Linked DNA regions of Homo sapiens: all the other regions are linked to region 1. The links come from fine-mapping of genetic effects on gene expression. A gene starts in region 1. Each other region holds a variant in brackets. All regions are shown on one strand. Distances are between the middles of the regions.

Region 1 (5,000 bases):
TGGATTGCCCTTCCTACTCAAGGACCTCTCACTAACACAGAAACCCCTGCGCATGTGAGATTCTGGATGGTGCTAGATAGGGCCAGGGTGCTGGGGGTGGGAACAGAGTCACCACTGCCACAAGGCCACCCCTTAATTTCAGGTGGTTTATGATCAACCACGTGGCAAATTTATACACTGAAACCAGCTCAGGCAGAACAAAGGAACAAAGACAAATTTCCCAGGTTGCAGCCGGCAGTCAGAAGCCAGAAGCCACCAAATAGCTCCCTGGGTTGCTTTTATGCACTCAACCTGAAGAGAGCCATTTGCCATGGCACATGCTCCACACCTACGACTGCACATCCATGTATGTGATTCAGGACTTCAGAAGCATCACAGGTATTCATCAGAGCACCCCACCAGAGATGAAAAAATCTCAAATATAAATCTCATACATAAAATTTCATGTGATAAATGATGAAGAAATCTCCTTAACTCCTCAGAGAGACGCCTCTCCAGCACAAAGTGGTGGTACTTAGGATAATCATCATGTCAAAGTGGGTGACATCACACTGTCCCCTCTGAAACAATCATCTAATATTTGACTGTGAAAGTATCATCTTAGGCATTTAGGTTTCAGTTTTACATCACACTTCTGCCTTTAAGGTCGTTTCAACTTTGCAGACATGATCTGAACTCCTATTAAGAGGATACATTCCTATGCAACGAAACAGCTATTTTGGAAAGAATGGAGTCACTGAGGCCGTCTAGGCTACATATAGGGCACAGAACCACTCAGACAGAAGGCTTGGGAGACATGGGTGGCACAAACTAGAATGAAAGAAACGCTAAATAATTTCATCAAGTGCCGATTAAAAAAGATTGCAGGGCCGGGCGCGGTGGCTCACCTTGTAATCCTAGCACTTTGGGAGGCCGAGGCGGGCGGATCACCTGAGGTCAGGAGTTCGAGACCAGCCTGACCAACATGACGAAACCCCGACTCTACTAAAAATGCAAAAATTAGCCGGGCATAGTGGTGGGCGCCTGTAGTCCCCGCTACTGGGGAGGCTGAAGCAGGAGAATAGCTTGAACCCAGGAGGCGGAGATTGCAGTGAGCCAAGATCGCGCCACAGCACTCAAGCCTGGGCCACAGAACGAGACTCCATCTCAAAACTAAAGAAATAAATAAATAAAAATAAAAAATAAAGATTGCAAGTATAGGTACACACATTAAGGTACAAGCACATCTGTTTTCATGCGATTACTGGTCTCTGATTCACTTCTTTGTTCTCTATGGTGAGTCACTCAGAGAATGTGATTCCTAAGGTTCTAAAATTCTGAATAAATGGAAAGAATGCAAGCAGAGGCACTCCACAAAAACATTAAATACCAAGCTACGGGGATATTTCCGAACAGAAACAGGAAGTCTCGGCTATGGCAGAGCCTGGAGCAAGGAGAAATTTGTCCACCAGCCTTCCTTTCAGGAAACACTTTTCCTCCAACATTTTGTAATAATTACTTTTTAATAAAGGGCGAAGACAAACTAGTAATTTCCAGCACCAATCACTAACTATTAAGGAAGATAGTTTCACAACTTCCTAAAACAGAGGCATGGGATTCATTACCTATTTCTTTTGACTTCATTAATTTAACGCAAATTTCCTTCAGAATAATGAAACTAAGGAGAAAGTTGAACAAGCCCTGATTCAGACTGGACACCCCAGAATTCCTCTAGTTCGCATTTTAAGGAACCTGCTTTAGTGAGAAGTATGTGGCCCCATCCGAGGATGCAATTTCACAGCCAGGAGCAGCCGCGGTCCCCGCCAGGGATGCGGTCACGGGCGCTCGCACCCGGAAGCCGCTCAACAAGTTCCCCGCCGGCTTCGGCTCCGCACCCCCACCCAGCCAGGCTCTCCGCAGAATTTCCTCCCCGCACCTAAAGGCTGCACTTCATTTTCACACGCGGGAACGCCTCCTCCCGCTGCTCACCTCCACAACTCCCGGCACTCCCGCGACACTTCCCCACAGTCCCCTCCGCCCGCTCCCCTCACCCCGGCTCGGCACCCATCCTTTCCTAACCCCAAACTGCCCGGCGCCCCGGGCTCTCCGCGCCTGCGCCGCGCCCGAGGACCACCCCCGCCCAACCCCGGGTCCATCCGATCCTCGGCCCTCTGCGGCGGGGAGAGGGGGCGGACGGTGCACAAAGGTCACCCCGAGCTAACGGAGGCGGTCGGCGCGGGAAACGCGCTCACCCGCAGGGTGGGGGCGGGGTGCGAAAACCGAAGGAACGACGGAAGGCGCGGACCGGGGCGGGAGCCTCCCCGTCACCAGGGTCCCGCACCTCCCAGCTCCGGGAGGCGCGCAGGGCTGTGGCTCCCCGTCGCTCCACCGTCTGCGCTCCCAGGCAAGGTCCTCTGGGGCGCCTCGGAACTGCGCGCCCCCAGCCGCCAGCATGGTGGGCGCCGCGCCTCCGGCAGCACCCGGTCCCCGGCCCCTACCTCCAAGAGCAGCCCGAGCAGCAGCGCCGCCACCTTCGCAGGCTGGCGCCTCATGGCTCCTCGCGTCCTCTCCAGCGCGCCCGGACGCCGGGTCGCAGGCGCGCTTCGCGACTCGGCCCCCGCGCGGGGCGGGCGGGCAGACTGCAGCCGGGAGCCGTCCCGCCGACCGCTGGGGGGCCCGGCTGGGAGCGGGCGGGAGCCGGGGCGCGCCGCGCAGCCCTGGCTGCGCTCCGCCCCCGGCCGCCGCGCGCTCCCGACACGCCCGGCCGGGCGCGCGCCTGCGGGCTCCCGGAACCCGAGGCCCGGCCTGGGGCGCGGCTGCTGGGCGCTAGGCCCGCGACGCTGAGGTGCGCGCGCCCCGGGCGGGAGGAGGGGCTGCACCGCCTGGCGAATGGGAGGGGGACTGGCAGGCTCTCCCTTCCCAAGGGAGGTCGTCCTGTCGCCCTAGACTAAACCCAGGAAGGCTTTTAAAAGAAGCAGAGTCTCCGCGGGGGGAAGCTTGTTCCCTGAGAGGTGGCCGCAGACGAACCCACTGCTCAGTCTGGCATCCCGAAGCCGCTCCGCTCCTGGCTCTCCCCGCTGTTCCTGCGCGCAGCGGGGGCAGTGCCCCCACACCCACGCGTGATGGGAAGGCCGGCCTGGGGGTGGGAAGGCCCACCGAAATAGATGGTCCCCACACCTCACTGCTTCCTTGGATGTGGCTATTTTTTATGCCAGTGTTCTCCTGCTCTGACCCTACTTGAACTTGACCGCAACCGGCCCCGCCTTGCAGGCCACCCTCCCGCAGCAGAAAACTGTGCGGAGCTCGCGCTGTCCTCGCCTCCGCTGACCCCACCTCCATGTCCTCACAGACACTATTTTTTCACAACACAGCTCAGATCCCACCTTCTTCATGAGGTTATTCAACAAACACTATTAAACTTGTAAGATGTACCAGATCCTGAGTTGGAGGCTGAGAGGAGGACAAGAAAACTGCTCCCGTAGCCTAGAGGGAGGGAGAGTCGCTTAAACCACCTGATGCAGAATGCTGAGTGCGGAGACCAGGAGGTGGGTGCATCACAGAGGGTCATAAAGGACATGAGCTGCGCAGTACAGGAGGTGGAAGGAGGGGGTCACACGAACAGATGTCACCCGAGGCAAGTCCCCAACTCTTTCCCAGCTTTCAAAGCCTAATTTGATTAATATAGAGCATGCACCACCTGACTATACCTGTCAGAGCCAGAACTTACAAGTAAGACAGAAACAATGCCTATGGCCTTCAGTCATGCTAAGGCACCTATCTGACAAGCCTGCCAAACGCCATTGAACTCTAGTAGTTTTACTATTTACAATGAGGACATTTTACAACTCTTTTTAATGGAAAAGTTAACTTGTAGAAAACTAAGCTGAAAGCTTATTGTGTGTTAGCAAGACAAATGTTTTTCCAGTGGGGATAGAAGTGATCTCGTCCTGTAAAAATGCAAATGGGCCAGGCAGGGTGGCTCATGCCTATCATCCCAGCAGTCTGGGAAGCTGAGGTGTGAGAATTGCTTGAGCCCAGGAGTTCACCAACCCCAACCTGGGCAACACAGCAAGAACCTGTCTCCATTAAAACGTGTGTGTGTGTGTGTGTGTGTGTGTGTATAAGACAAATGACCCCTGCTTAAGGTGAGAATCATAACCAGCTTCCTATCTGATTGAGCCACTTCATTCCCAGCGTTTCCTTTCTCTTTTCTCCCCGCTTTTGACTGTGTGTGTAGGTCACTTGCCTGCATTCTCCTTTGAAGCACCTTTGTCATCCCACTGTTTCCATCATTAATGGGTTAAAATGGAACTTTGACTTGTGTCCACGATGTATTCGTGTGCAAATTGTGGTTCTGTTGCATTGTGAGCAACCTACTAGTGTCTGACATAACCTCCCTTCTGCATCTCTCTCTGCCTGGAAGATTGTTTTGCTGAGCTCGACTTCCTGTAATTTGTGCAAGTTTTTTTCCAAGAATAAAATTAGAACTGTGACTCTGCTTTCACCTCAGTCTGATACCTCTCCTGTGTGCTCTCTGTTTGGTCCTGAATGATGTGGTGGTTGCTTGGCATGGTTGGAGGATGGGGTGTAGGCTAACCAGCCAGGCTGTTTCCTTGAGCACAAATTATAAGGGCATCAGATACCACTGAAAAAGTTACAAGATAAAGCTGCATTCACTAGAACAACTGTTAAAGTTGGACTTGGGGTTAGAAGAAAGTTCTTGATGAGTTGTTTGGGGCAGGACTGGACATGTCCTGGTCTGCTCAGCTGCCCCTGAGGAGTAAGGACCCAGAGCCTGGAGCATGTGTGTTGCCAAAGGAAACAAATAAGAGAGAGACTGGGCTTGACCTGTAGCTTCCCTGCAAAACTGTGGAGTCTACATGAATGATGAACATGTATTTCATTTATTCAATAAATATTTATCTGCATCTGTTTTGGGCCAGGCACTATTCTGGACATTTCGGATACAGCCCTGAGTAAAATAGACAAAGCAGTGGCATAAAAGGCAGAGTGGCTGCTGT
Region 2 (5,089 bases), 140 kb before region 1:
GATGCGGGTGTCTCCCCAGGTGAGTCCATCCACACACGTTTGAAAAACACTATTAGTCTTTCTAACACACTGAGGGAAAGATTAAAATCTGTGGAATAAAGGAGGAGATTTTATTTACAGATTTTTTTAAAAGCCACCTGGGTTGACACCTTCCTACTTATCCACTAGATGTCATCAGAGGTGCTGTTCCGTGGTTCTGCATTAACCCCTGCCTCATGTCTGTAACATGTGACAGTAATTCCAGCTCGGTCCCTCCAGGCAAAGGAGAAACGGGACTTACTTCACAGGACAGAGGATTGACAGAAGTCAGTTTAAGATAAGTGTTTGAATCAGATTTCAGTACATCTCATTCATTTCTTAGATTTGTATTCACAATTGTGTTCTCTAAAATGTGTCTAAATTTTAAAAATATGTACATGCATAATGTCATTTTAAAATCTGAAGGAAAGAATTTGAAGTCCACAAAAAGTGTTTGAGGTTCTTTGGTTTTGTTAGTAAAAGCCAGTTCTGTGGTGATGACCTATGGAATCGTCATTCGTTTTCATTTCTCCGTGTTTGAGAGTGACATTGGTTAGGAGCAATGGCGACTGTTCCGAAGGTTGGATTCTTCACTTAAAAATGCGGCAGTTGCGGCTGGGCATGGTGGTTCATGCCTGTAATCCCAGCACTTTGGGAGGCCGAGTTGGGCGGATGATGAGACCATACTGGCCAACATGGTGCAACCCCATCTCTACTAAAAATATAAAAATTAGCTGGGCGTGGTGGCGGACACTGTAGTCCCAGCTACTCGGGAGGCTGAGGCAGGAGAATCGCGTGAACTGGGGAGGTGGAGGTTGGAGGTTGCACTGAGCTGAGATCACAACACTGCACTCCAGCCTGGTGACAGAAGGAGACTCCATCTCAAAAAAAAAAAAGTGGCAGTTGCTCGCCTTATGATGTTCTAGTTGCAGGTTTCTTTTTCTTTCTTTTTTTTTTTTTTTTTTGAGACTGAGTTTCACTCTTGTTTCCCAGGCTGGAGTGCAATGGCGCAATCTTGGCTCACTGCAACCTCCACCTCCCAGGTTCAAGCGATTCTCCTGCCTCAGCCTCCCGAGTACCTGGGATTATAGGCGCGAGCCACCATGCTTGGCTAATTTTGTATTTTTAGTAGAGATGGGGTTTCACCGTATCAGCCAGGTTGGCCTCGAACTCCTGACCTCAGGAGATCCACCCGCCTCAGCCTCCCAAAGTGCTGGTATTACAGGCGTGAGCCACTGCGCTCAGCCCTAGTTGCAGGTTTCTATCTATAAGTACATTCTTTTTGATTCCAACAACAAGACCTTTGGAACCCTGGGTCAGAAGAGCCACATCTATCAAGCTCCCTCCTTGTGATGGGCCCTTTGTTTTCACAGCAGCACTGGGAAGGGGGACTGTTGTAATTAACACTTTCTCACAGACGAGACAGTGCCAGACTTGCCCAGCATCTCACAGCCCGCGTGTGGGACAGTCGGGTCAGACTCAGGTGCTGCTCATGGTGCTAAGTTGCACCCACTCCCTCTTCCCCTGGGTGCTCGATGCAGAAGGAAAGCCACGGAAACCCAGGAAGGCCCTGCGACATGACCATGAGCACATGGCTAGTGAACAGAAAAGCAGGACGGACCATATAGGGCTGCTTCCTCTGGCCCTGTCATATCTGCTCCCCCACAGCCTTCTAGGTGGGGAGGGACCCTACAGCCATTTGTCGGAATTGAAACTGCTTTTTAGCTTAGGCAGTTTTCACATCTGTTGCTTCATTTGCTAAATTTACAAATACAATGGTCCAAGTTTAAAGTCCAGGTTCCCTAAGACGTCTTTACAAACCATCTCCACTCCCGCCCAGGCTCTGCGCCGCGACTTCTATGGCTCTACCTTTCATGAGCCTCATAGTCTGGTGAGAGACTGGATGTGTAATGTGGATGGGACCATTGGTGGTCCTCAGGAGGCATTGAGCCCACTACGTTGCATGCAGAATTCTGTGTGCATATGATTACTGACATGGAGAGAGGGTTCCCAGTTTTCATTACCGCTTCAAAGCGGTGTGTGACCCGAAAAAGGTGAAGTTTCAGGCTGGGGGGTAAAGAAGTGTGTGTGGGCCAGCCGGGCTTCAAAGCATGGAGCCGGGGGTGCTGTGGGAGGCGGACATGGCAGCAGGATTGGATCAGGAGGTGCCGTCGCATTTAGGAAGACCCCTCCTGTGGTAGAAGATGCTGCCAGCAGGTCCTGACTTTTCCACATCAGTGTCAAAGTCCAGCGTGACCAAGTCCCTGGTGCCTGTCAGCCTCTTCTCTGCTTCCTGGTACACAGCTGTGGGCATAGGAAGTGGTGGTCCAGGCAGCACAGTACGCAGCCCCGAGTGAGCCGGCCAGTGCGCTTCTGGAAGGCTATTCCATCCATTGTCT[C/T]CTGTCAGAGGCAGGGCTCCTTTATGATCCTGTTTTACCCAGGCTGCAGCTCCCCAGAGGCTGAGGCGCAGGGGCTCTCAGATGCCTGGGGCTATCCTGAGATCAGTCGGCTTCACAAATCTGACTGTTCCCAGCTCCCTCTCCCGTTTGGAGGTGGGAAGCTCGGTTCTTCTGCTCAGCAAATGCTTACGGAGCATCCACACTGTGCCAGGCATTGTGCTGAGTGCTGTGAGTGGAATGATGAAAAACCACCCTGGCTCCTGTCCTCAGTCAGCATCGCATCAGGCCTGAGGAACCTCTGCAGCACGGCAGAAGCCTTGAGCTGAGCTCAGACTCAGAGGGCCTCCCTCAGAAGGACCCCGGAGTGTTCCTCTGCAGTGAGGTGAGGACAGCTAGCTTCTGGGTGAAGGATGTTGTACGCCTCTTCCAGATAACAGCAGGAGGCGGACCAAAGGAAAGTGGGGGTCAGCTCAGCCTTGCAGTGTGACACCTTGTGGGCATGAAGGTGAAGGTGGTAGTCCCTGTCGTCAAGGAGTATATGGTCTACAAAGAAAGTAATAAATACATGTTTACATTTTACAGCCAACCCAGGGTGGTGTGTGTTAAGAGCAGAGACTCTGGAGCCTGGGAGCTTGTGTTCACCTCTGAGCTCACCTGTTCCCTGTGGGAACTTGGTCAAGTTATTTCTTGAGCCTCCATTTCTTCTCTATAAAATCAGGACAATGGTAATATCTACCTTATTTGGTAGGTGGGAGGATTTAAATGACAAATGGGAAAAGCCTCTAGTCCGTGTAAGTGCTCTGATGGGGCAGGTGAAGGTGCCGGTGATTGGCTTTCATGTGAGGAAGCACTCACCTGCCTGCATCGTGGAGGGAAATGCAGATCTGTCCTACTTCAAAGTCTCATGCCTCATCACAACCCCGTGTCAGTCCTCTGCTTGGCAGCCCTGGGCTTTCAGACAATTGTGCATGAGTGTGTGTGCATGAGTGTGTGTGTGTGCGTGTGTGTGCGTGCGTGGGTGTGTGTGCGTGTGTGCGTGCGTGTGCGTGTGTGCATGTGCATGCGTGTGTGTGCATGCATATGTGAATTGGTAACTGCCCCAGGATCCTTCAAGAGGAAAAGATGCTGCAGGAGCAAAGATGTCCTAAACCACAGTTTCAGGCTTATTCAAAATCCAGGAATTCAGAGAGACCAGGGTGTCAGCTGCTTTGGTGTTTTCTTGGGCATCCCAGGGAGCTTTCCCTGGTTCTGTGGCCCCCTCCACCCTCCTCCTTACTGTACAAGAGAAACTTGTGGCTTTCATAGGATCATCCAGCAGATACGCTGCTGCTCACATGTTGATAAAGATATTACCCCACTCTTAAAGTATTGCCCTAGGAGAATAAAACGTGTCCCGAGCAGCATAATCACACATTCATCTGTAAGTGTATAAGTATTCCTAAAGTTCCAAGAACTGACAAGGCCAGCCTTTCAGACCATTCCTAATGGAGGTGGCAGGGAAGTTACCAAACACTGTGCTCAGTTGCTGGAAACTAGGTGTGATCCCCAGGATAAGAGAGGGTGACCTACACACATCCTCTTGGCAAGCCAGAGGTGGCCTGGCTCCCGAGGAGTCCCCACGGAGGCCGCCTCGTAGCTGTAAGGAGGGCTGGGAGCATCTGCAGTACCTGCTCCCTCACAGCAGCTGAGGAACTTATTTTGAGTCCTTGTGTGCCAGAAAGATGTCTTTCATCTGCTCTGACACTGAAATCATAGTTTGACTGCTTAAAGGATTCTCGACTGGTTATCCTACTGATATCTCAAGGCATTGCTCTGCTGTCCTAAACCTTCCATTGCTGCCTGTGGGGATTTCATAGCCATTGGGATTCTTGTTTCTTTGTATTTGATCTTGCTTTGTATGATTGTTTTGCAAGTTGTAGGATTTTCATCTGATAATAGGCCTAGTCCTGGTTCTTAATGGGCCCTTCCAATCTGTAAATTCATGTCTTTCAATTCTAGGAAATTTTCTTGAGTTATTTCTTTACTGCCTCCACCCACCCTCTGTCCTTGTCTCTTTTTCTTGAACACCTGTTATTTGGATGTTAAGCCTCTTAATATAATCCCTGATTTTCTTTCTTCTGTTTTACACCCCTTTGTCTTTTTACTTTACTTTCTGAGAGATTTCAACTTTATCTTCCAGTCCTTCTATTGAATGTTTCATTTCGTTTTTCTTTTCTGGAATTTATTTTTTATATCAGTGTATCTTTTATATAGTATCCTGTTTGTATTTTTTTTTTTTTGGAGACGGAGTTTCTATCTTGTCGCCCAGGCTGGAGTACAGTGGCACGATCTCAGCTCACTGTAACCTCTGCCTCCCAGGTTCAAGTGATTCTCATGCCTCAGCCTCCCAAGTAGCTGGGATTACAGATTACAGGCGCCCCCAACCTCACCCGGCTAATTTTTTGTATTTTTAGTAGAGACAGGGTTTCACTATGTTGGCCAGGCTGATCTTGAACTCAGGTGATTCGTCTGCCTCGGCCCCCCAAAGTGCTGGGATTACAGGTGTGAGCCACTGCGCCTGGCCCTTCTTTGTATTTCTTGGTTTTGGTGTCTTATCTCTCCGAGGATGTTAATTTATCCAACTGGTTAATGTATCCAACTGAGTAAGTGCTTACTCAGCACCAGACATTACG
Region 3 (5,089 bases), 220 kb before region 1:
AAAGGGCCAATCAAAAGCCCTCAGGGCTGCTCTGCCTATGAAGTAGCCATTATTTTATTCTTTTACTTTCTTAATAAGCTTGCTTTCCCATTACTCTATAGACTCGCCTGGAATTCTTTCTTGCAGAGATCCAAGAACCCTCTCTTGGGGTCTGGATTGGGACATTTTTCTGGTCACACAAGCACTTCATGTCCTCCTTTTCCCTTGTAGGGTCCCAGGGGCTGCTAGCCATGGCCTAGCACAGTGCAGCACAGGGAGCACCACACACATCCTCAGCTGTGCTCCCAGGGATGCCTCCTGCACAGTCCAGTGTGAACAGCTGCCCAGAGCCAAGAAGGGCAGTGTTGCTCCACACGGGCAGTTGGCAGCCACGTGGTAGCTATTGAGATCTTCTTGTTTTTCATTATTTACTAAAACAAACAAACACTTATATGTCTAATAATAGATAAAATAAATTCTCGTAGATCATACAATGGCATATGAAGCCAATAAAATTATGTTACAGAAGAGTATTTAATGACAGAAAAACATTCATGATTTATTGCTAGATAACATGATAAAATTTGAACATAATAGGTAAAAAGACAAAAATGTGTAGTATAAAATAAAATTTCAGGACCCTCTAAATTTATTTTGCCAAGGAAGGAAGTTAAGCTCTGGAGACAGTAGCATGTTTGCAATTTCGCTTCTTAGATTATAGCTTAACCCTCTTCCTCATTGCTCTTTTCCTGTAAATGCCTAGGAGAGACCAGAGACCAGATATTCCCCCTTCCAATCACTGATCTTTGTTATAGATTAACTGTCTTTATTGTCCAGTTCCTAACCCAGACCAATGGCACCCAAGACCCCATGACAGTTACATCTTCAGGGTGGAATGTTAAATATACCTTTCCCTGAAAGAAACGTACCATCTGGACTAATCATATCATTGTATTTTAACTATACATTAAGTCTTCCATAGAAAGACACTGAAATTCTGTTAAAGCGCCCTAAGCTTTGTCCATGTAAACGATCCCAAACTTCTACACTCTGGAGCACTGACTTCCGTTCTTTGAAATCTGGGCTTCCTGGGTGGCCTGTCCTCAATCTTTGCACTTGAATAAACTTGCTTTAAACTAGAGTCTGACCTTTTTATTATTATTATTATTTTAGGTTGATTACAGGCACTGGAACATGACCAAAAGCAGGCAGTAACTAGAGTGGAGTCAGGCCATGAGAATCAGGAACCACAGTGTGTAAGATTTGCCATATGCAGCATTTGGCCTCCAGGTCCTCCCCAGTTCACACGGAGCTCAGTGCAGCTGGAAACCTCAGTCTTACTGGCTTGATGTGTCAGATGACAAAATTTAGACTGGCAGAACAGCTGGAAAGTTATGAAGAAATCCTGGAAAGGAGAAAACCACAGAGGAAATAAACCCTTACATCTGATTATAAGCTCCGCCTAAATTCTGGGCTGACTTGATAAACTATAGTCAACGAAAAGAGTCAAACTGTGTAAAATATTTGAAGAGATTTATTCTGAGCCAAATATGAGTGACCATGGCCCGTGACACAGCCCTCAGGAGGTCCTGACATCGTGTGCCCAAGGTGGTCGCGGTACAGCTTGGTTTTACATAGTTTTAGGGAGGCATGAGACATCAATCAAATACATTTAAGAAATACATTGGTTTGGTTCTGGCCAGGCACGGTGACTCACGCCTGTAATCCCAGCACTTTGGGAGGCAGAGGCAGGCAGATCACGAGGTCAGGAGATCAAGACCATCCTGGCTAACACGGTGAAACCCCATCTCTACTGAAAATACAAAAAATTAGCCGGGCGTGGTGGCGGGCATCTGTAGTCCCAGCTATTCAGGAGGCTGAGGCAGGAGAATGGTGTGAACCCAGGAGGCGGAGCTTGCAGTGAACTTAGATTGCGCCACTGCACTCCAGTCTGGGTGACAAAGCAAGACTCCGTCTCAAAAAAAAAAAAAAAAAATTGTGGGCCAGGCACAGTGGTTCATGCCCATAATCCCAGTGCTTTGGGAGACCGAGGCAGGCAGATCACTTGAGGCCAGGAATTTGAGACCAGCCTGGCCAACATGGTGATACTCTGTCTCTACTAAAAATACAAAAATTGGCTGGGTGCAGTGGCTCATGCCTGTAATCCCAGCACTTTGGGAGGCCGAGGAGGGAAGATCACCTGAGGTCAGGAGTTTGAGACCAGCCTGGCTGGTGAAACCCCGTCTCTACTAAAAATACAACAATTAGCCAGACGTGGTGGCGTACACCTGTAATCCCAGCTACTCGGGAGGCTAAGGCAGGAGAATCGCTTGAACCCGGGAGGTGGAGTTTGAGTGAGCTGAGATTGCGCCACTGCGCTCCAGCCTGGGTGACAGAGCAAGACTCTGTCTCAAAAAAAAAAAAAAAAAAATTAGCCGGGCATGGTGACACATGCTTGTAATCCCAGCTACTCAGGAGGCTGAAGCAGAATTGCTTGAACCCGGGAGGCAGAGGTTGCAGTGAGCCGAGATTGCGCCACTGTACCTCAGCCTGGGTGACAGAGTGACACTCCGTCTAAAAAAAAAAAAAAGATACAGGATTGTGGAGACCAAGTTCTGCAGCACAGAGAAATCTCTCAGATAGTGGATTTCAGAGAGACTGCAGGTTGTAAAATGTTTCTTATTAGACCTAAAAGGGAGCCTGGCTCTTAGTTGATTATCTCCTGGATCTGGAAAGAAAGGAAGGAAAACAAAGGGGAAAGAGGATTCTCTATAGGATGTGGATTTTTCCCACAAGAGACATTGCAGGGCAATTTTAAGGTATGGCAGGGAAATATATTTTGGGGTTAAATGTTTTTTTCTTGTCTCATAATGTTATGCCAGAGTCAGATTAAAAAGTAAGTTACAATATAT[A/G]GGGTCAAAACCCGTCTGATGAGAATTTATGGTTTGTAGGGCATGACTCCCTAGACCCCTTAGGTAGGAAGTTGGGCAAGATAAAAAATCAGAGCTTAGTCCTCACTACATAAACACGGGGAAGATCCCCGTGGGGCCAGCAAAAAAGTAACAAATGAAAACTAAAAGAATAGATATTTCATCTACTTCCCACTGCAGGTTGTTAAAGAAAAACTAGAGTTGGACAGTTGTTACAGCAGTAAAGATTTTATTCAGGAACTATTGCAATAGGGGAAAGGAGCCTCAGAATACAACTGGGCTCAAGTCTGAATACAGCAAAGACAAGTGGGAATTTACAGCTGTGAACTAAAAATTAAAATTCTAAGCCCCCCAACCATCTGAATGAACCCCTCTTCTTAGCCAAGGGCATTCCAAAGTTAACCTGAAAATGTAGTTCAGGCCATGATGGGAAGTGGGGGTTTGATGTGCCTGATTACCTTCCTCCCTTTGGAATTCAGGCACAACTGACCAGCATTAACATAAAAACAGAGATCTTAATACTTTTTGTAGCAATAAGATACCAAATTCCAGCCTGACTCTAGTATAGCATCACCTGACCGACAGCAGGCCCTGAAAGAAATCAGAGTATTTTACCCTAAAATGTATTTCTTCGACATATCTTGAAATGGCCCTGCAAAGCTATCTCTTGTAGGGAAAAAATCTACATTCTGTAGGGAATCCCCTTCCATTTCCAGGTCTTGGTCCTGATCCAGGAGAGAATTAACAGAGTCTGGCGGCTTTTTTAGTCTGATAAGAAACATTTATAAGCTATTCTCTGAAGCCTGCTACCAGAATCCTTCATCTGCATAATAAGAACCGTGGTCTCCACATCCCTTCTCTTAACCCAGACACTCCAAGTCTTTAGATAAACTGTTTCAACCAATTGCCAATCAGGAAATCTTCTTTGAATCCACCTGTAACCTAGAAGCAACACACTTCTCTACTTTGAGTTGTCCTGCCTTTCCAGATAGAACCAGTGTACATCTTCCATGTATTGACTGATGTCTTATGTCTCCCTAAAATGTATCAAACCAAGTGTTAGCCAAACCACCCTGGCACATACTGTCAGGACCTCCTGAGGCTGTGTCACAGGCATATCCTTAAACTTGGCAGAATAAACTTTTAAATTGATTGAGCCTTGTCTCTGATACCTTTTGGTTTACATAGCCAAGGAGCAGGGTGGAGGTCAGTGGATGGAAAAGTATTAAGAAGAAACATCAGGGGCAAGGGGGTTCTGGTTACAGAGGTCTAACAGGACTCCTACTGAAGGCAGGCCAGGGTGATCAGAGGTCACCGGGAAGTTGGTGGAGAATGAGGAATTTGATCAGCTATTGAAGGTGACAGTAAACTGACTTGAGATTCTTGCTACAACTGGGCTCTTGAGGACAAGGCCTAAGGACGGGTCTTAGTCCAAAAAGAACTCAGAGGAGCCTATCTAGAGTTTGGCCAAAGACAGGATCTCTGTCAAGGAGACACCCAGGTTTGGAATTCTTTTTTATTTTATTAATTTCTTTAGAAGACATGTTTAGGCTGAATGAGGTAATCCCAGCATGCCTGTAATCTCAGCACTTTGGGAGGCCAAAGCAGGTGGATCACCTGAGGTCGGGAGTTTGAGACCAGCCTGACCAATATTGAGAAACCCTGTCTCTACTAAAAATACAAAAATTAGCTGGGCATGATAGTGCATGCCTGTAATCCCAGCTACTCGGGAGACTGAGGCAAGAGAATTCCTTGAACCCAGGAGGCGGAGGTTGCAGTGAGCCAAGATCGCTCCATTGCACTCCAGCCTGGGCAACAAGAGGGAAACTCCATCTTAAAAAAAAAAAAAAAAGACATGTTTAAAGATTATAACAGTGCATTGTGATGTTTATAACAGGTAGGTGTTAGGTATATGCTAACAATAATGCAATTTACAGGAGGTGTATATTGAGCTATATGCCATTATTTTATATATATATATATTTATTTATTTGTTTATTTATTTATTTAAGATGGAGTCTTGCTCTGTTGCCCAGGCTGGAGTGCAGTGGCGCGATCTTGGCTCATCGCAACCTCCACCTCCTGGGTTAAAGTGATTCTCCTGCCTCAGCCTCCCAAGTAGCTGGGATTACAGGCACCTACCACGGCGCCCAGCTAATTTTTGTATTGTTAGTAGAGAC
Region 4 (5,089 bases), 100 kb before region 1:
GGATTAAACAGCATTAAGATGCTTCTCAGACTGTTCAATATACTTGTGTGCACTGCCCGTCTCCCAGGGATGGACACAGTTGTGATCCCCAAATGCTCTACAGACTTTTAGGGGAGGGACCATGCTCTAGGACCCATGCTTTAAGAAGGCAAAAATAAACCAAGCACTGTGGCTCATGCCTGTAATCCCACGGCTTTGGGAAGTGGGAGGATCGCTTGAGCCTAGAGGTTTGAGGCTGCAGTGAGCTATGATTGAACCACTGCATGCCAGGCTGGGTGACAGAACAAGACCCTGTCTCTAAAAAAACAAAAAGGAAGCAAAATAGAAAATGCTTCTTTGCAAACATTATGTCAATTAGTGATACATCTAAAATACATCTTGAGAGGCTGGGGTAGGAGAATTGCTTGAGGCCAATGGTTTGAGACCAGCCTGGGAAACGCAGTGAGACCCCATCTCTAAAACACAAAATAAAATAAAAAATAAATAATTAAAATGCAGTTTAACTGTAGCAGCTACACCCTTCAGCAGCATCTGTGAGAGAAGTGTTATTTCTGACCAAGCAGAGCTGTGTTTTAAGATGAAGGCTCCCCGACCTGTGAAAAACAGCCCTAGCTCAAGGTTAACTTACAGTATCAACAGTACATTACTTCAGCGATGCTTCTGTCTTCCTACCCACTGGGGACAATTGTCTCCATAGCTTGTATCTTACATTCTCAAATAACATCTAGTTTCTGGTTCCCCTGAGACCAGGTGCATCCTCCACCCACCTCACCCCACTGAACCAAGGATCTGCTGTACACCCTTCCTCATTAGAAACTTCATCTCCACCCTCTTTCCCACTCCCCCAACAAAACAATCAAAGCACATGCCCAAATTTATTTTTATTTTGCACACATAGGAAACAGGATCCTATCAAAAGAGAACAAAAAAGAGAAACGAGCCAATTGTTGCAGAGGAAAAGCATGCACAGATCTGCTTCAAGTTTACTCTGAACCACGGACGCTCCGGGAATTCTACACACCAGGAGCTGTCTCACTCCAGGAAGTGGGCACAACCCACCATCCACACAATGGAAACAAGAATGGCCAGGAAATGTCACCGAAGTGGGACTTCCATATGCAGGATCAGCGTTCACAGTAGCACAATTCTAACCAAGTTCAAGGGAAAACAAACTCTGTCTCACACAAACATGGGAATACAAAATTGTTGAGCCCTAGCCATCACTGTCTCTTAACATAATTTGCTATCAAAAAGACAAACGAAATTTAGTCACGGACTTTTGGGTGCCTATTCAGCTGCACCCGATTCCAGGGGCAGCTTAGTGTGCTTTTTCATTACAAAAAATAAAGACATTAAAAATGCAAAACAAATGACCTGGAGGAAGAGGAGTGTTTGGACCCACGCAGTTGTCTTGGTTGTAAACAGTGAACATTGTGCTTTGTTGTCTCATTTAGATGGAGGCCTGCAGCATGGGAGGTACCACGCTGGCAGTCAGCAGTCACACCAGGGTGGTCAGAGACACTGGTGGCAGCATCTGTGCTTGCAACTGCATTCCCAGGGTGTCTGTTTTGTTCCCAAGTGTCTCCCACAAAATTCCCCAGGAGGTTCTCCGATTAAATGTCCTCAGAGTGAAAAGCATGGACACCAAATCACTCCGTATCCACTTCCATGAGATGTCTTGATGCTCCAGTTCAATGAGTAACAATTTCTCAAGAGGCTCTGATTAGTTCATTAAAAAATAAGCACCCCCACCTCATTCCCCGTGATACAGCACATCTAGTAATCTAGGCGCCTCAGCTAAGCTGCATAGCTCTTAGCACACAGGACAGGTCAGCGTTCACACATCAACACTATAACTATGCGGCGGAACTAGCTCCCCGCTAGCCGTCAACTACTCAGGAGACTACCTGTGAGATCCTGGGGTGAGCTGTGATTCCTATCCAGGAATGTGCATTTCC[G/A]ACCACTTCTTCTTTATTCTAATTATGACAACATGGTCAGTGCAGTTGAGTCAGTACTTCTCCTGTCTTTTCCCAGCAAGCTCCTCCTCCTTGGAGCCCAGCACACACCCGCTTAGACCCAACACAACCTCAGAGAGAGACGCCTCAGCTGGTCTCTCTCCCTGGAAGAGTCCATGTGACTTCCCAGCCAGATGTGCCCCGTTTTGAAAGCACCCTTCAGAACCCACCACTGGAGCTGCCTGAGGGAAGGAGACCCCCGGGCCTGAGAATGCCCTGGAGAGGCAGTGATGTCCAGGGAAGACACACACCCAGTCTGATTTCAAAGGGCAGGACGCTCTACATGCACTTCCATAAACACACCAAAAAAATGGGTAACAGTCCTTTCTCCAAATCAGACCAAGAGCTCACAAAATGCAATGTCTCAGTTTGGGGCAGGAAGTGATTTCCCATGAATTTAAATAAATTTGCTTAGTGGATGTCAGATCACTGTCAGGCCTCCAAGGCAAGCCTGATTCTAGGCCCCATCCTGCGGTGAGAGCTGCACGTGCTACCCTTCCCTGGCGGTGCAGGAGAAGTCTATCTTTAGGATATGAACAGAGACAGAAACATGACAAGGGGCTTGCTCTCTCCTGAATGTCTCTCCAACAGCTTCTGGAAGAGGAAGGCTGACGAGAGGACAGGCTGGAGCAGATGACCTGCTGGGCTCAGCTCAGTCGGCTGCTGCTTCATCGGCTGAGCCGCCCGGCATGGGGCTTCCTATTAATACCCGGGCAGAAGGATGCTTGCCTGGGATGCTCGGCCTGGCCCCTCTACATGCCACCTGCACCTCCAGCACTGCCTTCTTCCTCTCAGTCTCTCTCCTGTAGATCTGGTCACGCCACCGTAAGGACGTCAGCCCTCGGGGACTGTCACCACACTACCATGTGAGAGCACAGACTGCGTCAGAAACAGAAGCAACAGAGGAGACAAAGTGTGAGTTCATATATTGTACTCCATGGAAAGCCTGAAAGAGAGCTGTGCTTGCTGTGAGGATATCAGAGGAACTGCCCTTAGCAGCCCACGAGACCGTTCCTGGAAGTGAACATCAACGAAGACAGAAAGGCCAGGGAAAGGCCCTCTCCTGTCTCTCCTCTTGCACGTGGGCACCCCACTACTTGGCCTTCACTACCTGTTCGTACGGGGGCGGAGGCGTGTTGCAGTAGGCTGGAGGGGGCGGGCAGGCCACACTCCCCTGGGGTGAGTTGGGTGGGACCTGGAAAGCCATTGCCATGGAATTCCCGACAGGGTTCATCCCCGGTCCTCCTGGGTCGGTGTAATAGGGCGGCCCCGGCTGCTGGGCTCCTGAAAGACAGACAAACATAGGTGAGCACAGAAGGGAAAGCCCCATCACACCGCAAGTATGTGCAGGCTGCAGGGCCAGCAGACCACGCCCCGTCATTCACTCAGCGACAGTGTATGAAGGACCCAACATGCCCGGTGAGGGGGCACCTGGGCTGTGGTGACAAGCAACACAATAGGCAGGTCCCTGCCCTCTCGGGGCTTTGATTCTACTGGACTACATTCCACGTTACCAGTTCACACATTAGGGTGGAGGAAACTGGGCCACAGTAAGGTGAGGCTGTCTGCGGTGAACTATCGGAAGAGCTGCAAAGACCACCCAGGCTTCGCGACTCAGCCTGGCATTATCGCAGGAGCTCCACAACCCCTCTGGGCACGCCATTGGCTGGTGACCATTTCTGAAGTAAGGTCTCCATTCTCCCTGCCGGGCTAGTGTGCCCTCAGGGCAGGAGTTACTCACAGGCAGGGAGGCCGTGCACCTGGGCACACATAGCCAGGCTGCAGCTGATTGACGCTCCATGGGTCAGGAGCGGAGCCGCAGGCTGACTCCCTAGTGACAAGCTGAGGAGCAGGGCACGGGGGCACCACAGAAGGTGACAGGAGGGTACAGGCTGGACACCCGACCCCAAATCTAGCCCTCACTCTGAGGTGCTGTTTTCAGTGTGCTTACTGTGATCATGCAGATTAACACTATAGAATTATGCATATGTAAATAAAGAATCAGACAAAACCGTGAAAGTGCTGGGTGTTCCCTGGGTATAGCTGATTTTGTGACAGGACTCAGGTGTTTTTGAAGTGAGGCTTCCTTTAGCTCAGGGAGACACTCAAGTGTCAAAGAAGCTGCCCCTGTGTGAATATTGTGTAGGGTTTTTTTTCTTTTTTTGCAATTCTCCCCCTGACACAGTGTGATATAGTTCTGACTCTAGAAACATGCCCATCAAGGTACACAAGATGTCCCAAAGCCCACATAAGTCAGACCATGGGAATCTGCGCATGTGCGGAAGGAGAGCATGTAGAACAGAAGCACAGGCCAGGCCTGCACTGTCTCTCACTGAGCGCTCTCAACTGCCAGGAGGGCACTCAGCACAGATGCCACCCTGTGTGAGAGGCTGCCTCGCCCTGCATCTGTGCCGTCCCACAGACACCACCTGAGTGAGATGCCGTGTGGTCCCACAGATGCCACCTGCGCTGCTCTGATGCATCTCACCCGCTGCCTTGGGTGTGTTCTATTTAGAAGTCGACTTACTGCCATTACCATGAGTTTCGCAAGGGCAGAGATTATGTTTTATTTAGATCTGGATCCTGCTATATGTTATACAATTAAAAAACCAAGGATTTTTAAAAAGAGGGCATTGCAACAGTCTAAGCAAGACATTATGAAGGCTTCTGAATATTAGAGAAAAAATGGAGAAGAGAGAATGAGGCACTGAGGGCTGTCGGCAATGACTGGCCTGGGATTGACTCGATGGGGAGCGCACAGCGTGGGAGACAAGGGCTGAGAAGAAAAGGCCCTAGGTTCTGCTCACAATAAGGGCCCCCCAACAGGCAGGGCAATACAGGAGAACAGGGGCTCTGCAAGAATTAGCGCCTTACCAAGGTCACACTACTGCTACAGCAGCACCAGGACAAGGGCGGGGCAGATGAAAAAGTCCCTGCTGGACTGGAGAGGGCGGAGGCAGCTCTGGAGCTGGAGCCTCCTGTGGGAAGGTGGTGGTGGAAACATGGGCATGTCCAGGAGAAGGCTGCAGGAAGGAGCAGCACTGAGGCCAGGAGAGGAGCATGAAGTGTCTAAG
Region 5 (5,089 bases), 42 kb before region 1:
ATTTTTTGTTATACATTATAGGAAACAGAAAATAATATGGAAAGCCATGTACCGAAATACTGACAACTAATTATGTTTCAGTTGGTACTAGAGATGATTGTTTTCCACTATACATTTTGTTAGTCTCCAAGTTTCCTGTATGGAACCTGTACATTTTATTTTTAAATCTCTATTCAATTTTACTTTAAAATGCAGACCACTTAGTACCCAAAAAAGAAGTGAAAACTGGATATGAAAAGATATTTAAACCAGCCTGGTCAACATGGTAAAACCCCATCTGTACTAAAAATACAAAAATTAGCTGGGCGTGGTGGCGCATGCCTGTAATCCCAGCTACTCGGGAGGCTGAGGCAGGAAAAATCACTTGAACCCGGGAGGCGGAGGTTGCAGTGAGCTGAGATCGCACTACTGCACTCCGGCCTGGGCAACAGAGCAAGCTCTGTCTCAAAAAAAAAAAAGAAAAATATTTAAAATAAGAAAATATAACTGTTAACAAGAAAGAACATTCTCCAGCTAGGAATGAAATAAAAATAATAAAGTTTGTGAAATAATATACAAGGCTAGAAAGGGTGTACTCAAACAAATACAGAGTCAGCAATTAAAGCTGTATTCATAGAAAGTTTATCATGGAAAATGTTTATGTCATAGTTAATTTAAGACACATTATATATATTTAATTTCAACAATGTAAAAATAAACATATTCATAGGAGAAAGAATGTAACAGCATAAGCCTAAATTCACAGTGTTATATTTGGATGGTGTGATTTCTTTTTAAAATATCTCCCTACTGAAGCCTTCAATTCTGATGATAGAGGCTGTTGTGGCAAGAGACAAGGGACACATAAGAGTCCTCAATGGGCCGGGCACAGTGGCTCATGCCTGTAATCCCAGCACTTTGGGAGGCCAAGGCTGGCGGATCACAAGGTCAGGAGATGGAGACCATCCTGGCTAACACAGTGAAAACCCACCTCTACTAAAAATGGGCGTGGTGGCGCTCGCCTGTAGTCTCAGCTACTTGGGAGGCTGAGGCAGGAGAATCGCTTGAACCTGGGAGGCGGAGGTTACAGTGAGCTGAGATGGCGCCACTGCACTCCATCCTGGGTGACAGAGCAAGATTCCGTCTCAAAAAAAAAAAAAAAAAAAAAAAAAGAGTCCTCAATGAGTGCAAAAGACTGGATTCGCTGCAAGACCCAACACACATGTGCACCCAGGAGCTCCTACTCATGCCTGCTGAACAAAAGCGTTCTGAAAACTATGCTATCTTTTAAAACATAATTATCAATATAAATCACAATTCATGATACTTGAAGGATCAGGTGATCCAAGTTCTAGCTCAATTTACTTAGGTTTAGTTTATACACTATAAAATCACCCATTTTCAAGATATAGTTTGATGAGTTTTAGGAAATGTATACAGCTGTGCCTCCAACACCCCAATCCAGCTTCAGAACCTTTCCTTCACTTCAGAGAGTTCCCTCATGTTGTTCTGCAGTCAATTCCAACTCCTACCCCAGCGCCCCAAGCAATACTGATCTGCTTTCTATCTTTATCCATAGTCTTGCCTTTGCTATAAGGTTCAATTAAAGAAAATCATACAACTTACAGTCTCTTACGTCTGGATTGTATGTTGCTGCATATATCAGCAATTCATTCCTTTCTAGTGTTGAACAATATTCCATTCTATGAAGACACCACATTTTGTTTATCCATTCACCAGCCTATGGACATCTGGGTTGATACTGCATTTTGGCTGTTATCAATAATGCTGCCATATCCATTTGCACACAGGTCCTTGCATGGACAGATATCTTAATTTCTTGGGTACATACTAAGAAAAGTGGAATGGGTACGTACATTCCACTCCAAGACCTGGAGTGGAACTTCCAGGTCACACAGTAACTCCTTACCTAACTTGTTGAGAGACTGTCAAACTATTTTCCAAGGCAGCTGCACTACTTTACATTCCCATCAACAATGTAAGAGGGCTCCAGTCTCTCCACATCATCACTAACACTTATTATCTGTTTTTTGATATTAGCCATCTAGTACTGTACTGGTATCTCATCGTGATTTTAATTGGAATTTCCCTAATGACCAATGATGTAAGACTCTTTTCATTCCAGCTCAATCAGAAGGCAAAAAACAGTAGCTGCCATACATGGAATGCCTGTGATCCACTAGGTGCTTTTCATGTGAAATCTCACTTAACATTGTAACAACCCTGAGAGTTAGGTGGTTTACAAAAGAGCAAACTAAGGTCTCGAAGAGGTGAATTGACTTGCAAAGGTGACACAGGAGCAAGCTGAAAGTCGGCATTTGACTTCAGGTCTGTTGGTTTCCAAAGTCTGTGTGCTTTCTGTGGCAATGTCTACAAGCTGAAGTTTTCTGTGTCATCATAATCCACGACCCACCCTTTGGAATGTCTGTCACATCGTGTGCATGGAACAGGAATGAGATTTATTGTAGGCATTATTTTGCTGTATAGAAGAAAACTAAAATGACTGAATCCACATGAAAGACCCGATCTCCATGCCCCCAAAATAACCTTTTATGAGTTATTAGGAATTCTACCTTTCAGCATTCCTCACCTCTCAACACTGTCAATTACTGCATCTCCAGGAGCAGAAATCAAACACAAGTGTGTCCAGCAGCTTTGCTAAGGAAACTGTCTCTGCAATCAGCATGGCCAGCCCACCAGGAACAAACCACAAGAGAAAGGAAAGGAGCAAAGTCAAGGAGCCCAAAGCCCACCAGGGTGCAAACCATGAAGCATCCTTTCACTCTCAGAAATCACTTTTTAGATGCCAAAAATACTTAGAGGTGCCATTTTAGGCACAGAACTATATAAAATGAATATAAGGCCTGCAGCCAAAAGGGTTCATGTGACAAATTTTCCAAATGCCACAAAACATCATTCATTCAAAAAACTCATGAGTGGGAGACTTCATTAGAATAGCCTGAAAGCAGCGATAACAGATAGAAATATCAGTGCTACTGTTATCTGCTGGCAATAAATGAATATGATAAACCTTTGTTATCAGCTCAGTTCCAACAAAAGCAATGAACAGGACCAAACCTTTGAATGCTCTCCTTAAAGGCCTAATCCAGA[A/AT]TTTTTTTTTTTTTTTTTGAGAGGGAGTCTCGCTGTGTCGCCCATGCTGGAGTGCAGTGGTGCGATCTTGGCTCACTGCAACCTCTGCCTCCTGGGTTCAAGCGATTCTCTTGCCCCAGCCTCCCAAGTAGCTGGGATTACAGGCACGCGCCACCACACCCAACTAATTTTTTTGTATTTTTAGTAGAGATGGGGTTGCACCCTGTTGGCCAGGCTGGTCTCAAACCCCTGACCTCAGGGGATCCGCCCACCTCGGCCTCCCAAAGTGCTAGGATTACAGGCATGAGCCATCGCGCCCAGAAAAAGTCATCTTTTTTTGATGTAATTGCAGAGTGCAAGAGTAACATTATGAAAAAAAAGTCAACAGATCAGCTCTGCCACCTCCTAGTCTATGATTTGGGCACCCGGCTTTGATGATCTCATACATGTCTGAGAAGAGTAACAGGCTTGTTGTTTCCAACTACTATGCCCCCAAAATGAAATAACTGAGATATGTACCAAAAGACTACTCTCCTCCAGTTGGGCCTAAATCTTGGCCAGCAGATCCAAAACTCAACCACCACACTTAAGAGAAAATATCAACTTCTTACCTTTTGCAGACAGAAATGCCCAGAAAGATTAATAAGTGGAGCAGCTTCAAGGGCAAAATGCCAAAAAATGCATAAGGATTTTTGCATTTGGGTTGTGTACTACCCTACCTATTTGACTTCTATTTTAGAAGAAAAGTGTGTTGGATTCTCTGATGACATATATTTCTGTAAGTCTAGATTCTAACTGTAAAGAGCACAAGAAATTGAAAAGCTGAGATGTGACTAAAGTCTGACTAAAGGCTGAATAAATGATGGTGCCACCCACATTTAAAGACAATGTGACTTACTAGAATAAACACACACAGCACCTGCCGCATGCCTGCTTCTGTGCCTGAACAGTGACCCAACCATGGTCAGGTCACCGAAGGTCTCTAAGCTTTGGTTCTTTGTCTACAGACTGGAGAGAGGTATTTCTGTCTTGCCTTGAGGTTTACATGAAACAGTGTATGCGAACCACCTGGCGCATGCCCACTATTCTAAGAGCCTCCTGCTAAGTCGTTACATTGTGTGCTGTGTCGGTTTATTCTTGAGAATCATGGTCAAGTAAAGCTCAACCTAAAGATGCAGTTAACATTCTCTACAACGTACTTTTGTGTCTCTATGGAGAGTGAGAATATGGAACCTGTGATCCAAAATGAACCAGAAAAACAAACAAACAAAAAACAGAAGTTTAGAAACTACACTAGTTACAACCACCAGCTTGGAAATGATACCCTGGTGTGGAAAAATACAGCTCAAAGCAATCTGAGGGAGGCTCCTCCCCTTTCCATGGAAGTTTTCATGGCTTCTGGCACACCCTGTCAGCATTCTCTTCCCAGGAAGGTACTGGGAAGCACTGCCACGTGTACTCCTCTCATTCCTTTTCACTACTACCAAATTTCACACCCCCTCAATTCTAGTAATATGCATTTTCATTAAATCTGGTAATATTTAACCTGGAGTCAAAAAGCAATTTCTTGTGCTTAGAAGACTTTCTATTTCTTGTCATGAATTGATTGGTTATAAATGTTAAGGGACTAAGCTGTTACAGCAAATTTGGGGAGAAAGAGAGTCAGTTCCACGTGCTGCCCCAAAGCAGCATCTGTGTATCAGAAAATCTTCAGGGAGTCTCTGGCAGTGTGGAGGCCTAAGCTAAAACCAGGAGGACTGAGAACATATGTGCCAGGAAGGTGATTTTGATGCCAGTTCTGTCTCTCTCCTGAACCCAATCAACTCAATCATTTCTGTTTAACACAAACTCACATGAGTGCCTCCTAAAAGCTGGTTCAGTCAGCTGCCTCCAGGTCAGACCAGTGAGGATGGAGGCCGGTCACTCAGTGTTGTCTGTGGGTGCATGCAAGGGGCAGTGTGGTGCTCTTGAAAGGCAGTGCCCAAGGACAGCAGCAGAA
Region 6 (5,089 bases), 130 kb after region 1:
ACAAAATAAATACTGCATCAACTATTCCTAAGCGAGGGAGCAGCCATTAAAATACATAGCATAGAAAGTTGTTCACAACGTATCTGTTGTTCACCACAAATTGGATGAAGAGAGAAATCACAAAGTAATACGCATAGACAATCCCGTGTTTGTCCGTATTGATTAGTGTAGGTGGGCATTTTTTTTTTAAACCTATACATACACTCAAAGGTACAGAAGGACATTCACTTCATGGCTGCATTTGTTTCCTACTGTTGCTGCAGCAAAATACCACAAACCTGTTGGCTTAAAACAACGCAAACGGATTCCCCTAATTCTGGAAGGCAGAAGCATAAATTCAAGGTATTGTTAGGGATATGTGTTCCTTTTGGAGGCTGCCGGGGAGAATGTGTTTCCATCTTTTCCAGCCTCTCGGGGCCACCTTCATTCCCTGACAGGGTCCTCCTTCTGTATCTTCTAAGTCAGCAGTTTAGCACTTTTTCCCCGGTCTGACCGCCTGCCTCCCTTTTACAAAGACTGTTGCAAGTATTTTGAGGCCACCTGGATAATCTAGGATACTATTCCTATCTCAAGATCCTTTATCAAATCTGTAAAGTCCCTTTTATTAAGGTAACAGGAGGCTAGGCATGGTGGCTCACACCTGTCATCCCAGCACTTCAGAAGGCCAAGGTGGGAGGATTGCTTGAGCTCAGGAGTTCCAGACAGGCCTGGGAAACATAGCAAGACCATGTCTGTCTTTACAAAAAAAAAAAAAAAATTGCTTTTGAATTAGCCGTGCATGGTAGCACACACATGTAGTCCTAGCTACTCAGGAGGCTGATGCAGGAGGATCACTTTAACACAGAAGCTGGAGGCTGCAGTGAGTTAGGAGCTTATCTTACCACCGCACTCCAGCCTGGGCAACAGAACAAGACTTTGTCTCAAAACAAAATAAAGTAAGGTAACATACTCACAGGTTCTGGGGATTAGAACATAGATACTTGGAGGGGCTGAATATTCTGCCTACCAGATTAAGATTAACAATATTTATTTCTGGCATGGCATGGCGCTCACATCTATAATCCCAGCACTTTGGGAAGCCAAGGTGGGCAGATCACTTGAGGCCAGGAGTTTGAAACTAGCCTGGCCAACACAGTGAAACCCCGTCTCCACTGAAAATTTAAAAAAAAATTAGCCAGGCGTGGTGGCACATGCCTGTAGTCCCAGCTACTTGGGAGGCTAAGGCATGAGACTCACCTGAACCCAGGAGGCAGAGGTTGCAGTGAGCCAAGATCGTGCCACTGTACTCCAGACTGGGTGACAGAATGAGACTCAAAAAAAAAAAAAAAAAAAGAAAAAAAGGAAAAAAAATATTTATTTCTGGGTGGCAGGATTTCTTTGCTTAACTGTATTTTCTTTTCCTAAGTCAACATGTATGATTTGTGTAACTTTTAAAAGGAAGTGTGGTATGAGGGTGACAAAAATGTTCTAAAACAGGATTATAGTGATGGCTACATAACCCACTAAATGTTCTAAAAGTCACTAAATTGTATACTTAAATGGGTGAATTCTATAATACATAAAACAAAAACCAAAGAGGGGCTTTTGCACTTACTTTCAATGGCTCAGCCTAAAATAAATAAATAAATATAAAAAGAGATCAAATATAGCAAAATGTTAACAATTGGCAACACAAAGTGGAATTCACTGTAACGTGCTTTCGACTTTGGTGTAGGATTTAACATTTTCAAAAGGTAAAGGAAAATGGGCAGAGAAACAAGGAGAAATAACAGGACAACTCTAGAAACTAAACCTATTTGGGGATTCCAGTCTTAAGCTGGACTTTAGCTTCAATATTTTGGCTCTCAAGAAGCTCTGTGCAGGGTGCGGTTGTGCGTGCCTGTAGTGCCAGCTACTCCGAAGGCTGAGGCAAGAGGATCACTTGAGGCCAAGAGTTCAGGCCATAGTACAAGATGATCACACACTACACTTTCCAGCCTGTTCGACAGAGGGAGACCCTATCTCAAAAAGAAAGAAGAAAAAGAAAAAGAAGCCCTGTTCCAAGCAATGTGGAAGCAGCCACAGTTAGTGAGGAAGGCAGGTGAGGCTGATGCTCACCTCTTCCTTCCTCTCCATACCCCAGGTGAGGGGGGACCACAATCCTTCGCTTCTCTCCAATGCAAACACCAAGTAGACCTTCATCCATCCCAGGAATCACGTAGCCCTGCCCAATGTACGTGTCAAACGTGCGGTTCTGAGAGTAGCTAGAAAAGAAGAAAGGAAAGAAAGAGGTCATTCATGAGGGCCTCCACAGCAGCTGTGCAAATTAGTTGGGAAAGAGATGCAAAGGCACACAGAGGCCTCCAGACTCCGGAACAGCGTAAACCACAGTATCTGATGACACAGCCAGGAAACATGCTCCCCTGGAA[G/A]GGTAAATAGGAACCCCCACACAGCATGTGAACAGCCACCTGTAGAGACACGCCGTGTGGCCCTCCAGTTTCGTCAGGTTATGAATGCAGTGTGGGTTATGAGAAGCACCACACAGAAATGGAGCTAATGTAAATTGAACGCTATACTTTCTTTTTCTGAGGCAAGGTCTCACTCTGTCACCCAGGCTGGTGTGCAGTGGCACCATCATAGACAGCTCACTGCAGCCTCAACCTCCCAGGCTCAAGCAATCCTCCCACCTCAGCCTCCCAAGTAGCTGAGACTACAAGCACATGCTACCACACCTAGGTAATAAATTTTTTTTTTTGTAGAGATGGGGTCCCACTATGTTGCTCAGCCTGGTCTTGAGCTCCTGGATCACGTGATCCTCCTGCCTCGGCCTCCCAAAGTGCTGGGTTGACAGGCATGAGCCACCGTGCCCAGCCTGTACACTCTATAACCACGTCAAGTTAATGAAAACAATCAAGCTCTCAACCAGCCTGGGCAACATGGCAAAACTCTGTCACTACAAAATTACAAAACTTAGCTGGATGTGGTGGCACACACCTATAGTCCCAGCTACTCAGGAGGCTGAAGTCAGAGGACTGCTTGTGCCGGAGAGGTTGAGGTTGCAGTGAGCCAAGATCACAAGACTGCACTCCAGCGTGGGTGACAGAGTGAGACCCTATCTTGAAAACAAAAAACAGAATCGAACGTAGCCCTTATCAGAAACTACGAATGTGTCACAAGGATAATGTCTCCAATATCTAAAGAGAAAATATCTGCATATGTGGGACATGAATATTCTGTTTTTATTTTCTAATTACTTTTTAATTTTTTTTTTTTTTTGAGACAGGGTCTTGCTCTGTCTCCCAGGCTGGAGTGAAGTGGTCTGGTCTCAGCTCACTGCAGCCTCAACCTCCTGGGCTCAAGTGATCCTTCCACCTCAGCCCCTCAAGTGGCTGGGGCTACAGCATTCAATACCATGCCTGGCTCATTTTTGTATTTTTAGTAGAGACAGGGTTTCACCACATTGCCCAGGTTGGTCTCGAACTCCTGGGCTCAAGCGATCTGCCTGCGCTGGCCTCCGAAAGTGTGGAATTACAGGCCTGAGCCATAGCACCCAGCCTGACATGAAGATTCCGATCGCCAGGAAAGCAGCATACACACTGAGAGTAATGAATTCCGCACTCTCCACCACAGCCCGACAAAAGGCCCCCACTATCATCCCTGCTCACCCCGCCACCCTGGTGAATACTTGGGTTTTCCAAGTGCTCCTGGCAGGAGCCCCAAGTCCACTCAGTGGAGAGATCCAGCCTGTGTGTAAACTGCCGAGTGAGTCTATTACCATGAGTTTGGTAAAAAGAGGAATCAATTCCCCACAGCATAATGATTCCAGAATAAAATAATAAAACTTCATATGCCACAAGTCCACTATCAAACTGGACCACGTGACCTGCACCCCTTCCCCACACCACCTGGTGCCGATGAGGCAGAAAGCCTGTCCTGAAAGAGCCAATCGGTCCTGCCCTTCCCTCACCTCAAAGCCAGGGCATGATGCCCTGGAGAAGAGGGACCGCCAAGCGGGGCCAGGCTGATACACAGGCAGAGCTGTGGGGGTTCTCCCTTCTCAATACCCCTCAGAGACCACAAAGTCATGGGGCACAAAGAAAGAATCACAACAGATGTCTCTCCTCACCCAGGAAGCAGGAGATTGTCCACATAAACTCCCAGACGAGGCTGTGAGTCCCCCTTCCCACCCACTGAGAACAGCACCCCACGCTGAGCAGCTCCAGGCCTCCTCCTGGTGCACTGGCCAGGAAGGCCTGGAGGGGAACACAGCAGGGAAGAGGAGGACCGTGTCGGCTCCCAGCATGCTTCAGCCAGAGCAGGGCTCACCCTCCCGAGGTTCCCACCTGCAGGACCCTGGGGATCACCAGCAATGTGCAGCCACTGCCAGACATTCAGGGAAGAGAAGGATACCTACGTGGTGGGCTCCCGACAAAGGGACACCAAGTAGTGAGAGAGATGGCAGGTACCCACAGCGGGGATTGCTGCCCACTGGAATAGTTGCAAAGATTCCATGGCAGAGGGGAGATAGCAGACACCGAAGGCTGTGGGATCTGCCTAAGGGAAGAGCAATGGTCTGGCAGCAAGGGCCAAGCCGAGAGGCAGGATATAAGAGCCTCAGAAGGAGAGACGGAATGGCGGGGTGGGCTTGAATTGTAGTGAATGCTGAATAAAAGTTAAAAACAAGTAAATGCAAAACCATCCTGTTCCCCAATAGAAAAGCAAAGTCGTCAGTCCTCCCCTAAACTAACTTATAAGTTCTTTTATCTTTTCTTTTTTTTGAGACACAGTCTCACTCTGTCGCTGAGGCTGGAATGCAATGGTAAGATCTTGGCTCACTGCAACCTCCGTCTCCCGGGTTCAAGCGATTCTCCTGCCTCAGCCTCCCAAGTAGTTGGGGTTACAGGCATGCACCACCACACTCAGCTAATTTTTGTATTTTTGGTAGAGACGGGGTTTCACCATGTTGGCCAGGCTGGTCTTGAACTCCTGTCTTCAAGTGATCCACCTGCCTTGGCCTCCCAAAGTGCTGGGATTACAGGTGTAAGCCATCATGCCTGGCCTAAGCCACCACGGCTGGCCCAAACTAACTTACAAATTTTAAAGCAATTCC

The links. PIP is the estimated chance that this variant, and not a neighbour inherited with it, causes the effect.
Region 2: its variant is fine-mapped to the expression of VOPP1 in whole blood (TOPMed, PIP 0.98).
Region 3: its variant is fine-mapped to the expression of VOPP1 in whole blood (INTERVAL, PIP above 0.99).
Region 4: its variant is fine-mapped to the expression of VOPP1 in tibial artery (GTEx, PIP above 0.99). The same link has a PIP of 0.9 or more in fibroblasts, spleen, visceral fat and whole blood.
Region 5: its variant is fine-mapped to the expression of VOPP1 in whole blood (INTERVAL, PIP above 0.99).
Region 6: its variant is fine-mapped to the expression of VOPP1 in whole blood (TOPMed, PIP above 0.99).

What each region holds. Positions count from the first base shown.
Region 1 is chr7:55,569,794-55,574,793 of GRCh38, forward strand. It overlaps VOPP1 (VOPP1 WW domain binding protein), which reads right to left and starts at 2,709. Exons shown (of 5, transcript NM_030796.5): 1 at 2,478-2,709. The coding sequence starts at 2,531. It overlaps VOPP1-DT (VOPP1 divergent transcript), which reads left to right and starts at 2,973. Exons shown (of 17, transcript NR_187585.1): 1 at 2,973-3,524. RefSeq lists enhancers at 1,703-1,762, 4,092-4,171, 4,502-4,641 and a silencer at 1,963-2,942.
Region 2 is chr7:55,433,215-55,438,303 of GRCh38, forward strand. It overlaps LANCL2 (LanC like glutathione S-transferase 2), which reads left to right. Exons shown (of 9, transcript NM_018697.4): 9 at 1-523. It also overlaps a transcript of VOPP1 not described here. Among named protein-coding and RNA genes, the nearest start is that of LANCL2, 70 kb to the left of the region's middle. RefSeq lists enhancers at 90-139, 170-249. The variant C/T (reference allele first, on the strand shown) is at 2,418.
Region 3 is chr7:55,351,133-55,356,221 of GRCh38, forward strand. No RefSeq gene overlaps it. Among named protein-coding and RNA genes, the nearest start is that of LANCL2, 12 kb to the right of the region's middle. The variant A/G (reference allele first, on the strand shown) is at 2,892.
Region 4 is chr7:55,469,747-55,474,835 of GRCh38, forward strand. It overlaps VOPP1 (VOPP1 WW domain binding protein), which reads right to left. Exons shown (of 5, transcript NM_030796.5): 5 at 867-3,299. The coding sequence ends at 3,109. Among named protein-coding and RNA genes, the nearest start is that of VOPP1, 100 kb to the right of the region's middle. RefSeq lists an enhancer at 3,227-3,893. The variant G/A (reference allele first, on the strand shown) is at 1,959.
Region 5 is chr7:55,528,239-55,533,327 of GRCh38, forward strand. The region is part of intron 1 of VOPP1 (VOPP1 WW domain binding protein); the gene reads right to left. Among named protein-coding and RNA genes, the nearest start is that of VOPP1, 42 kb to the right of the region's middle. RefSeq lists enhancers at 2,113-2,162, 4,229-4,288. The variant A/AT (reference allele first, on the strand shown) is at 3,112.
Region 6 is chr7:55,696,906-55,701,994 of GRCh38, forward strand. It overlaps the pseudogene FKBP9P1. Among named protein-coding and RNA genes, the nearest start is that of VOPP1-DT, 130 kb to the left of the region's middle. The variant G/A (reference allele first, on the strand shown) is at 2,409.